Linked DNA regions of Homo sapiens: regions 1, 3 and 4 are each reported to be linked to region 2. Evidence: microRNA targets listed by miRTarBase, many of them from high-throughput screens and not tested one by one. Region 2 holds a microRNA gene; each other region holds the end of a gene's coding sequence.

Evidence for each region. Region 2 holds the annotated microRNA hsa-miR-3177-5p (UGUGUACACACGUGCCAGGCGCU, at 1,341-1,363, opposite strand). A microRNA usually pairs through its seed, bases 2 to 8, with sites in the 3' UTR of a target mRNA and lowers its output. Matches are read on the target gene's strand: a 7mer-m8 pairs with bases 2 to 8, a 7mer-A1 pairs with bases 2 to 7 and ends in A, and an 8mer does both.
Region 1: the mRNA of VPS36 is a reported target of hsa-miR-3177-5p. Seed matches in the 3' UTR shown: 8mer at 1,924-1,931.
Region 3: miRTarBase lists SLITRK3 as a target of hsa-miR-3177-5p. Seed matches in the 3' UTR shown: 7mer-A1 at 1,291-1,297.
Region 4: miRTarBase lists SATB2 as a target of hsa-miR-3177-5p. Seed matches in the 3' UTR shown: 7mer-A1 at 1,839-1,845 and 7mer-m8 at 2,757-2,763.

The regions. Positions count from the first base shown.
Region 1 is chr13:52,413,000-52,416,125 of GRCh38, reverse strand. VPS36 (vacuolar protein sorting 36 homolog) reads left to right here. Exons shown (of 14, transcript NM_016075.4): 13 at 33-109; 14 at 203-3,126. The coding sequence ends at 296. Among named protein-coding and RNA genes, the nearest start is that of THSD1, 8.4 kb to the right of the region's middle.
Region 2 is chr16:1,733,230-1,736,357 of GRCh38, reverse strand. MIR3177 (microRNA 3177) reads right to left here and starts at 1,373; the gene lies at 1,292-1,373. The region is part of intron 4 of MAPK8IP3 (mitogen-activated protein kinase 8 interacting protein 3); the gene reads right to left. RefSeq lists enhancers at 393-892, 893-1,394.
Region 3 is chr3:165,185,434-165,188,545 of GRCh38, reverse strand. SLITRK3 (SLIT and NTRK like family member 3) reads left to right here. Exons shown (of 2, transcript NM_001318810.2): 2 at 1-1,826. The coding sequence ends at 649. Among named protein-coding and RNA genes, the nearest start is that of SLITRK3, 9.4 kb to the left of the region's middle.
Region 4 is chr2:199,269,684-199,272,791 of GRCh38, reverse strand. SATB2 (SATB homeobox 2) reads left to right here. Exons shown (of 11, transcript NM_001172509.2): 11 at 120-3,108. The coding sequence ends at 581. Among named protein-coding and RNA genes, the nearest start is that of SATB2, 190 kb to the left of the region's middle. RefSeq lists an enhancer at 1-907.

The DNA of each region.
Region 1 (3,126 bases), not on the chromosome of region 2:
TACATTTTTTTTCTGCTGTGTGTTTCTATTAGGTTTCAGAAAAGGGATCCCTAACATCAGAAGAGTTTGCTAAGCTTGTGGGAATGTCTGTCCTCCTAGCCAAAGAAAGGTAAGTAAGGTTCTTACCTTTCATTACAATGTATGTTTGTGTGTCTGCATGAACAGATAATTGTGTGGGGGTTTTTTTGTTGTTTTTTTTTAGGTTGCTGCTTGCAGAGAAGATGGGCCATCTTTGCCGTGATGACTCAGTGGAAGGCCTGCGTTTTTACCCAAATTTATTTATGACACAGAGCTAAGGGTTTTGTATTTAAAATCCTTTTTGTCCATATGCTTGCGTCATGTAGAGGTTGTATGACATTGAGCTAAGAGATAAACCCCGATCAATTGAGAATTTATTGGAACTTCACAGTGCAATGTAAATCTCTTTTAATTTCTCACTAAATATGGTCCAGGAAATTTATTTAGTATACGCATAGGAAAATTCAGAAAAGTGAATGCCAATATGAATTTAAAATCATGCTATAGTGCAGAACCCTCAGAGTTTAACTTGGAATATAGTGGATTTTAACTTGATCCTCAAATCTAATCATTTTATAAAGAAGGGAATTTAGTTTTGCAGAGAATAAAAAGAGAAGTTGCATGTTCAGACAGGTTAGATTATTATTTTGGTGTAACTGAAATTCACTGATTGCACATGACAATGTTGGGACAAAATATACTGCAGCATGCTATATGAGGCTCCTCCCCAGGGCTTTTAGAAGCAGTCATAGACATGTCTTCAACATACCAAATAAAATACCTTTAAAAATGAAATAATTTTATTTGACACATATATTTATATATATTCTATCTAGTTTCTCTTTGTTTTTTTAAGTGATGATTTCATGACTGGCATTTAAAGAATGCAACTGTGTCATTTTGTTTCCAAATGCTGTGGATTTTGAAACTGAACTAGAGAGCTGTATAGACATGCCCAGAGTTATGATTACAAATTTAGGAGGTAGACGGCTCAGGAATTCCCTGGGATTGTTGTGCTGGTGGAATGGCAGAGGGAACTTCACAGGAACCTTAGTGTTCTTTTACCTCAAAGCCACAGACAGGAAATAGAAAGTGGAAAAGTAATATCTCCTTTTCTTTTCCATAAGGAGTTTCAACACTGAACTTTAAAAAGTCTATCATATTCCAGCAATATTTTTTCTTTGTCCTTTATGTTGTAAGTTGTGTGGAAAAACTACTTCGGTAAGAAATGTTACTGAGATAACAACAACTGGCTAATACTGCATGTAGATTGCTTAGGTTTTAAAGTGACTGCCTGACTTCACATGTTATTGCTACAGCCTCCAGTATGTTCGCATTATCTCAAACTCAGGGACCCCACAGGACAGGAGACACCCTTTCTGAAACTGAGTTGGAAGTGAAAGGGTGGTGATGGTTTTGGCCAAGCCTGCGGGAGGGAAAGTATTGTATTGGGAGCACCCTTGGGACCAGGAAGAGGGATGCCCAGGTTCACACTCTGGGACCCCTAAGACATTGTCAGTGGGTAAGGTGGAGGGCCACTGCCAGAGGCTGCTGCAGTGCCCTCTGGGAAGTGCCAGGGACCCTCAGCTGCAGACCCAGGGGATCCCAATCCCTTATCTCTGCCTGAAAAGTGGCTATTGCTGCTTCGTATCCTCCAGTGTCACAGGAATGCTGTGCCTGAGACATCCCACTTTAGTTTTTGTTTTCCAAACCTGTCACTGACTCTTCATTGTGGTGACAGATCCTCTGGTTCCCCCATTGCTCAGCCTCAGGTTTATTTTGAGGGTAACTCAGTGTCTGACTGCCCAAGTCTTTTAGGGGTTAGTTGGACCATTGTGTAAGCTTGTTTGTATGTCTCACCTCTTTCTGGTTGGTACTTACTGTCTCACACTGCTCTGGCAAACTTGTACACACACACACACTCTCTCTCTCTCTCACCTGGCTAAGGCTTTTAAAATTATGAAGATAAATAATCTGTTTCACCAGCTGGAGTGAGTTGCAAGGAAGATTGCTGGAGCTACTCAATCTAGCGCTAATGGTTTGGATTCATTACTGCAAACCTACATAATTTAACATATTTGTTTACTTTAGTGTGACAACTGATGAAAAAAAATGGAGCAATCTGAATTGTATAAAATAACTTAAGAAGGAAGAAAAGTGATATATAAATATATTTTGCAAATGTCACATTAATTTAAAAATGAGTATGATTGATTTTATTTTTAAAGTGGGCATTCTTCACTGTTTCGAGACCTTTGTATGTATTTGTGTATTTTTATCTTTTTTTTTCAGGCCATTATTATAAGGTGTTATTTTGGCCCTCTAATGTAGAAGTTATGTTTAAATACAACCAATCAGGCCCTAAGTGCAAAAAAGTTCTGTCTTGGTGCTTATCACTGGTATAATTATTATTTTTTTGTTTTCCTAACTTTGCTCTTAGGAGCATGAGCCTCTTTGTAGCTTTATGGTAATGCAATATTTCTGGTCATTTACTGTCAAAAAATTTTTTTACATTGTGTTAGTGAAGACTGTGTTTTCAGGGTTAAATGATTGGTATCAATGTATATAGAGTAAAATTATTGCAAAATTTAAAAATGATTTTTCTTGGCATTCTTTTTAAATACTCTGAAACATATATGCAAATGAGAAACCTTTAATCATACTAAAGCCAGTTATGTTAAGAATTTTTCCTTTGGATTTTATAATTAAGAGTTGCTTATAAATACTTATGACATTGAGCTCTTACTGTTTTAGTTGTCTTAAAACAATGGGACATGTCATGAACTGGTTTCTTTTTTTAAAAAATTCTTGATGTGAATTCCACTGTTACCTGACCATGTATATTCAGATGAATGTACTCTTTCTTGTTCCTTGTTACCAGATTAATCTGAGAGAATGTGGATTCATCCTGTCATCTTTCTCATACTCAAATACTTAAAATGGTTCTTTTGCCCAAAAGTCTCAGAGTCTTCATTTTGGTACAGTGGAGTCACAACTTGTAAGGTGGTTAGGTTTTAAAGACCGTGCCTAAGGACAAAATTGAGCATGCTCAGAATGGTCCTTGAAAATCTCCTAAATTACCAATAAATTTCTCTTTGTAGTCTTAAA
Region 2 (3,128 bases):
ACGGACGGTCACACGCTCACACGGATGCTCACACGGTCACACGCTCACACGGACGCTCACGGTCACACGGATGCTCACATGGATGGTCACACGCTCACACGGACAGTCACACGCTCACACGGATGCTTACACGGACGCTCACACGGATGGTCACACATGCTCACACGGACGGTCACACGCTCACACGGACGCTCACACGGACGGTCACACAGATGCTCACATGGATGGTCACACACACGGACGGTCACACGGATGCTCACATGGACGGTCACACTCTCACACGGATGGTCACACACACGGACGGTCACACGCTCACACGGATGCTCACATGGACGGTCACACTCTCACATGGACGGTCACACGGATGCTCACATGGACGGTCACACGGATGCTCACATGGGCGGTCACACTCACACAGACGGTCACACGGATGCTCACGGATGGTCACACGGATGCTCACATGGACAGTCACACAGATGCTCCATGGACGGTCATATGGATGCTCACACGGGCGGTCACGCTCTCACACGGACGGTCACACGGATGGTCACACAGATGCTCACATGGACGGTCACACTCTCACATGGACGGTCACACGGATGCTCACATGGACGGTCACACTCTCACATGGACGGTCACACGGATGCTCACACGGACAGGCACACAGACGCTCACACGGACGGTCACACGGATGCTCACATGGATGGTCACACTCACATGGACAGTCACACGGATGCTCACACGGATGGTCACACGGATGCTCACACGGATGGTCACACGGACTCTCACATGGACGGTCACACTCTCACACGGACGCTCACACGGACGGTCACACGGCTGCTCACACGGATGGTCACACGGACGCTCACATGGACGGTCACACTCTCACACGGACGCTCACACGGACGGTCACACGGATGCTCACACGGATGGTCACACGGACGCTCACATGGACGGTCACACGTTCCACACGAACGCTCACGTGGATGCTCACATGGACGCTCACACGCTCACATGGACGCTCACTCACATGGACACACACGGAAACACGGACAGTCACATGGACCGTCGCACACTCACAGACGGTCACATGCTCACACGGATGCTCACACCGATGGTCACATGGACGCTCACACGGACGGCCAGGATGTGGTGATGTGAGACACGCAGGGCGGCCGTACCCCGATGAGACAGAAGCCACACACAGGCACCCAAGAGGGACAGACATGCGACACACGAGCCCTCTTGGCTTTGACAAGAGGCCCTGGAACGGGGCTGTGTGGCAGTTCAGCCAGTGCCACGTGTCCCCAGTGCCGTGCACTGCGCGAATGTCTCAAGACAGCGCCTGGCACGTGTGTACACATGGCACGTGGTGACGGCACACATGTGGCCACACAGACACACACACACTCTGCAGCAGTGGCCCGAGAACACTGCCTGGCGTTTGCACTCACACCGACTGCATTCCAGACACACACTCACTAAGCCACGCCAGGCGTGAAGGAAAATGTCCATCTGGGTCAGGAAGGAGGGCGCCCAGCGCTGAGGATGGACGGCGCCCTCATGGTGAATCAAGGGGTTTTGGCTGAGCAGATGGGACTGACTCAAATATGTGTCCCCCAAGGGACCAAAGGTTGTGGCAGGACAGAATCCACACCAGAGAAGAGAGAGCAGGTGTCCAGCAGGGACGGGCTCCTTCCAGCTCAACTGCCCAGCAACAGCATACATCACCAAGGCCTGTCCCAGCACCCCTGACCCCACAAAGGCAAGCACTCGGGACAGGGGAGGGGGGCCGTGCCTTCCTCCTTTAGCTGGCTCATGCCTTCAGAGGCACAAGGCTGTGGCTGCCATCCACGCCTGCAGGCAGGTGGCAGACAGCACGTGAGCCCCACCCTCTCCTTCCTGGCCAGGGTCTCGGCCTGGGGAGGCAGGGGACACACGAGCCCGGAGGTGGCTCTTAATGCCACCACCGCAACAGCAGGCGTGACCGATTCCGTGCGCTGGTGATGCGGCTCAGTACCACCGCCGGCCAGGGAGGGAGGCAGGGGTAGCCCAGCCATAGCCCTGCCCCTCTGTCGCCCCCATGGAGCATGCTCCCGTCAGGGCCTCGGCATGCTCAGGGAGACAGGGCCGCCAGCCCCAGCGCCTTCTTCCCGCAGGGCCAACGTCTTCTCACGTGCTGTGGAGATCTGGCAAGGAGGCCCAGGGGCCAGAGTAATGTAGCTGCGCAGACCCCACTGCAGGGTGCCTTCTGGCTGGATCCAGTCATGGCAACCAAGGCTTTGGTGTAAACCTGGATGAGACCCCTCCCTCTCCCACAGAGGTGCAGGGGTCCTGTTTCACAAATGGAGGCTTCCTGGGGTCCGTGGCTGGGGAAGGCCCCTACCACACAGCCACTGCTGCTGGCGTTGCTCCCACGGCCGGTGCCAAAGGTCCTGTGTGCCCAGAAGAAGTGAATGGCTGGGGCCAGGTCAGGCAGAAGGACCTGGTTGTGGCAGCGCTGACAAGAGAGCACCCCAGATCCATCCCTTACAAAATGATCGAGGGGCTTCTTCCAGAGGGCACCGTCTGGTTCCCTGAGGGGAGTGCAGCAGCCCTGACATAGCCTTCAGGAGCCGTGGCAGAGCTGCAGAGGGGACCCCAGCAGTGGGGCCCTGACAAGGACGAGGTGCACCACCATGGGGCTTCCCACTGAACTCTCGGCGCCAGGACGAGCCAAGGGACGGGGGCGGCGCCCAGCCCAGACTCAGCTCAGGTCCCTGGGTCCCGCGGGGACACCTCGACAGCAGGTTCCTGGGCCACCTTCTGCCCCACACCATGAGAGAAACATGCAGGACGAAGTACTCCTTGCCCCGCAGCCACGCGCCTCTTCCAGGTAGGCCTGGCCTGGCCCATGACGACGGCAGCATCAGGCGGCTCTGGAGCTGGGGCAGCCTCTGCTCTTGGCTGAGCTCACATGGCCCTGGGGCTCTCAGGACCTCTCGGGTGTTGTCTGTGGGCCTGGGGTGGGGATCACTGCAACTCGGAACCTGGGCTCTCGGCCGGCGTCCTGAGTTCACACGTCACACCTCTGGGATCTGGGATGAGCTGGGCACACTGTTGCTGGGCTCCTCCTGCCCAGGCGCCCT
Region 3 (3,112 bases), not on the chromosome of region 2:
GGAGGTGGCTGTTTCATCAGCCCAAGAAGCAGGGAGTGCAGAACGTGGGGGTCCAGGGACACAACCACCGGGAATGGGTGAGGCTCTCCTAGGAAGTGAGCAGTTTGCTGAGACACCCAAGGAGAACCATAGTAACTACCGGACCTTGCTGGAAAAAGAGAAGGAGTGGGCCCTAGCAGTGTCCAGCTCCCAGCTTAACACCATAGTGACGGTGAATCACCATCACCCTCACCACCCAGCAGTTGGTGGGGTTTCAGGAGTAGTTGGGGGAACTGGGGGAGACTTGGCAGGGTTCCGCCACCATGAGAAAAATGGTGGGGTGGTGCTGTTTCCTCCTGGGGGAGGCTGTGGTAGTGGCAGTATGCTACTAGATCGAGAGAGGCCACAGCCTGCCCCCTGCACAGTGGGATTTGTGGACTGTCTCTATGGAACAGTGCCCAAATTAAAGGAACTGCACGTGCACCCTCCTGGCATGCAATACCCAGACTTACAGCAGGATGCCAGGCTCAAAGAAACCCTTCTCTTCTCGGCTGGAAAGGGCTTCACAGACCACCAAACCCAAAAAAGTGATTACCTCGAGTTAAGGGCCAAACTTCAAACCAAGCCGGATTACCTCGAAGTCCTGGAGAAGACAACATACAGGTTCTAACAGAGAGAAGAAAATATATTAGTGCTTTTTTTTTTTCAAAAGAAAAGGAAAATAAAAGAAATATATCCCTTGCTCCCTTTACACTTGTCCCAGTAACTCCATCCTCACGATCTTTCCTACCCTGAACAAAACTAAAACCGCATGATAACTAGAGAATACAGATGTATGCTCTCCCCTCTCAGATGCGATTTGGAGGAAGGGCCATACTCAGATCATTAATCAATGAAAGTGCCTTCGCAGACTTTTGCCAGCAAATGTTATCATTATTTTTTTATACTGAAACTTGAGACTTTGACTGTGCCATGTATAAGATATACTGGGGATCATTGTATGGATCCTAATTAAGTAAAATTCAATGTGTCTTTTTATTTTCAGTAACTATTTTTTTTATAGTTGTAGTTTTGATTTAAAGGGGGGGAAACAAGTTGACATTTGTCATTTGTGGCTTTCTTTCTTATCATCATGGCACAGATTCTGTACATGTATTAACAATGCAGTTTGCTGCATGCCTGGAAACTGCAAGATGGGGAGGGAGGGGGCGGGTCTTGCTCGAATGTTCTCACTCACTATCTTGTCTCTCATACACATATCCATCTGCAGACCATGGTCCCTAAACCTGCAGTTTCTTCCTGCTGGTGCAGGTACACACACACACACACACACACACACACACACACACACACACTCCATACCATTTCCATTCAACTCAATCTGCTTAGTTCGGGTTTGATCCATTTTTCTCCTCTCCATAGTTCTACCACCCTTCACTGCTAGTGTACAGCTCACAGCATCTCTCCTACCACCCTGGGAAAAGTCACATTCTAGGCTGGATTCTACTGAAGTAGAGGCCTGGTGGTTTAACAGCCGAAGACACACGCCTAGGGATGAGCACCCTCTTTGTGACACTTCATCCTGATGCCAAGATTTTTTGGAGAACATCTGCACTTTCTTATATATATATATAATATTAAAAAAAGCAACTGGGTATATATCACTAACAGCTTTGTAGGAAGCACTTTTAATGTTTTCTCTCTCACACACAAAGATTCAAAAGAAATGTGCATATATTTATTCTGTAATTTCAGTGATTATAAATTGTAAAGGTAATGTTTAATCATTGTATAGTGATTATGCCTCTGGTATAGCTTTCCTAATAAAAAGTTTTTGAAAAACATAATACATTATATATAGAGGATACAAAGCTTGAACCTTAAACTCCAGCTATGCCATGCCTTTCGTGCTTCCATTTTAGAAATGATTTCTTTTACTTGTTACACAGAAAGTAATTTATTAACGGGTTTGATGCACTGTGATGTTGATAAATCTTATATCCCACCATCTCTAGTCCAAACCAGGATACAATTGAGACTTAAAATGTGACTTACGGTTTACTTTTTTTTCCTTGAATTATGAATTTCAGTCTTAGTAACCAGTGATGCACTGTTTCCCAGGCAAGATGCAAGGGGGAGAAAATAAAGTAACTAGATCGCTAAGAAGTACAGGATTAATTAGGAGAAGATAATCTAGGATCCATACATCTTAAGATAATAAATGAGATAAAGAAATTGGAAAGTAAAATTGCTATTGTTTTTAAAATATGTAGTCCAATTACATGCACACCCTCACACACCCACACGCTTCCACACACACCCACACAACCCAATAAATATCAAAGGCCGTGGAGCCAATTTAGATGGCCAGAATCCTGTGAAAGCTGTCACTTATATTTGGTTACCATTTTCCAACCACTTACAGCAACTGGCCCCAATAACGCTTGAACTAAGTCAGAGGATGCTGAATGAGTTTTTCGTCATATGACATTAAAATTATGTTGAAAAATTAACCTGACAACAAACCAAGTTTAGATCCATTTATATGTGAGCGAAACCAAAGAATATTGGATTTTTATGGTGCCGGTATCAAATTGGTGGAGGAAACTTAAGAAAACAGACCTATGAGGCAGGCACTTATCTAAGTAGGCCATTAGAGGGCAGCAGAGTTCCAGAGATCCACAGACCCAGGACCCGCAGAACTGTGCAGCGAGGTCAGTGCTCTCTGCTAGGGTTTCCTCAAAGTGCCCATAGCAGGAATTATCATTAGGTGTTGAATGTAATTCATCACAAGTCACTGAAGCCTTACATCACAATTTTTTCCACAAAAAGAGAATGAGTCTAGCAGCTTCTGAAGGTGTGTGACTACAATAGCACGAAGGCATTGTAGTAACAAAATGAAAAGCCCCATGAATGTCTACAAGAATATATTTATATTCCTCTTAATTAATTATATAGAAATATCAGCATAGGTATGCATAAAAATAAAAAAGACAAGTATATACATATAAAATTGCAGTTTTGGGGCTCTTGACATGTATCTATAACTTTTATGCTCAATTATTTGAATATAATTTGGAATTATTTTAAAAGGAAAAAGCCCATGAACATCATTCACTTTATCTGTCTGTGT
Region 4 (3,108 bases), not on the chromosome of region 2:
ACAAATGACTATAGCTTACCTCCAGTGCTAGATAGATAACACATATTTCAGAGGGCTGATGGTTTTGGAAAGGTAAAATCATGAGTCCAGTGTTCATTTTTTTCTCTCTTAATTATCAGGTACTTCATAGACAGCAGTCTCAGCCAGCCAAGGAGAGTTCCCCTCCCAGAGAAGAAGCGCCTCCCCCACCTCCTCCGACTGAAGACAGTTGTGCCAAAAAGCCCCGGTCTCGCACAAAGATCTCCTTAGAAGCCCTGGGGATCCTCCAAAGCTTTATTCATGATGTAGGCCTGTACCCAGACCAGGAAGCCATCCACACTCTTTCGGCTCAGCTGGATCTCCCCAAACACACCATCATCAAGTTCTTCCAGAACCAGCGGTACCACGTGAAGCACCACGGGAAGCTGAAAGAGCACCTGGGCTCCGCGGTGGACGTGGCTGAATATAAGGACGAGGAGCTGCTGACCGAGTCAGAGGAGAACGACAGCGAGGAAGGCTCCGAGGAGATGTACAAAGTGGAGGCTGAGGAGGAAAATGCTGACAAAAGCAAGGCAGCACCTGCCGAAATTGACCAGAGATAATGTGAACTTCTACTAGGCAAAGCAATACATCGGTCCAAGGATTTTCTGCTTTCATTTCTTTAAAAGTTTTTTGTTAGTTTGTTTTTTGTTTTTGTTTTTGGGTTTTTTTGGCTTTATTTTTGTCTTTTTATGTCTGTTTTGTTTTTCTTACCCTTTTGGACATTTCTTTGTTGCACAGGATACACCTATAGACTGAATAAGTTCAGTATTTCCGAATCAGACATCGCCTTGGCAAAGACACTAAAGCGTTACACTTTATCCCGTCTCTATGACTGGATCATAGTCATTATAATCACAGGAGACTCTGCCTTCATTATCCTTGCACTTAACGGAAGTTACATCAGGCAAGTACCAGGATGAAAAGAACTATGAAATAAATGAAGGAAGCTACAAGTGTGTGTGTATATGTATATGTATATATCTCTATATTTACATATATATATTAAAATTGCATGGGACAGAGACTTTGCAATCCGAAAGAATAGACTGTGAAATGAGTTCTTAAAGAAAAGACTTGTTTATGTATTAAAAAAACCACTTCACAGTGAGTCGCTTTGGCTTTTTGATAAACTGCGGCCTGCTCTCAGGGTGGGGTGACTATTTTTGAATTCCTATTTATTTTTTGTGTTTGTCCCTGATTTTTTTTTTTTAATTCTATGGCTTCCTATCTGGCAGCTTAATGGGTAATTTTTGAGGTATGTATTTAACAAAATAAACGACACTGCCGAAAAAAAAAAAAGTGAAGTGAAAACAATCAGGGCACATTAAAATGATACAAGTCAAATAAATCTTAAAGACACAATGCACACTTAAAATGACTCAATAAAATGACTTGCTACGTTCCGTTATTCAATTTGTCATTACTGTAGTGAACAGATGCATTTCTGTGGAATTCCAAATAAGTAAAACTGAAATTCAGTGCAGAGAAAACTTTGTCCACTAGTGCAAGTCTTGATCAAATGACATTTTGACATTGGACATATGGAATTCATAGTATGAGCCACATTTTGTTGTGAAATTTATTTACCTGCTTGTGGCTTCAAATCTGAAAATTAATAAGCCTGCTCGTTTAAAAGTTGTTTGTTGTTGCTGTTTTTTTGTCTTTTTGTTTTTTACTAGAAAATAGTTCAGTGTAATATTAAGTTAGAAAAGAAGTTGCTGCCCAGTTAAAGGGGCTCCCTCTCAAATAAATCTCCATCCTTCCCTCTCCCAAAAGACATTTCTGATTTCTGCTTCACTTTGGGCTTCCTCTTCTTCGTACACATTCCATCTACCTAATCAAACATTTTCAGTCCCTGATCTCTCCTGTCCCTTTTCCTGGGATGACAGCCCTAACAAGAACTGTTTTTGAATCGTTGTGCAGCTCCAGGCAATAGAGTATGTGAAGCGATTTCAGTAGAATCACTTACTCATCCTAAAAGAAAACATTATCCCAGTTACCTACATCGCAATTACCTTATGTAAAGCAGAACTAATGCTGACTGGATGTTTAATGGGATGAGCATTAAAGCTGCAATCTACTATAGTACTCCAGATCTCTTTCGGCTTCCTATGAGAAACACCAGAAGCATTACTTTCCACTTCTACTTACAGTAATTGCAAGAGGAGACCTCACATTCAGGACTGGCCTAGTGAACGTAATCCATGCTTTAAACTGGCCATTAAACAGTCCCACATGGTTGGATTTTTTTTTTTTTTTTGAGTTGTGCTTTCACAAAACCTTGTCAAAGACCTCATGCAATATCACTTTGAAAGTTATTTTCTGTTTACTACACAAACATTGTAATATAACTGTTAATACTATTTATATATTTGAAAGGTATAAAAGGTAGGAGTTAAAAAAAAAACCTCTATGTGTAGATATTAACTCAGAACTTACAATATACAGGGAGAAGACATGTTGCAATACAAGCTAATTCTAGCTGCTCAGTAACCTCTGGAGTTTTTAAAGGGACATTTTCCTGTACTTTTTCAAATAATGATGTTTAAAAATTATCTTGACATAAGCGTCATATACCTTTGCAAAAGGATGGTTGTTTGCAGTTAGCCCTGGCCCCATCCTTCCTATTTCTGTAGTATGCTGCAGCTTTAATCAGAAAGTCCATGGTTGCTGCTTCCTGATCTCCGAGTTACTCTTTCCAAATTGTCTTCTTACACTGTTGCTGAAGGTCACTCTGTACACGTAATGGAAACTGATTTTGCCAAGCTCTTACAAGGTGGTTCATCTATCGATGGCATCCGCATTTGGTATCTTTTACACTTCAACCAAAAATTTATTAGGTATTTTTCAATGCTAAGTCTTGCCTTTTATTTTTTAATTTCACTGCCAAGTTTGCAGTGGTTCTAAGTGAATCTGTGGGCATTTTAGCCTGTGGTCTTGCCAGATCTTTGCGAATTACAATGCATATATGTCTATTTATTCAATATCTGTCATATAATATCTATTTGGAAGAAGAAACTTTCTCTTGTAGTGCCTCTTGACAAAGCACAATTTCCCGCCTTTTTTTTTTTTTGTGAAATGAAAAAA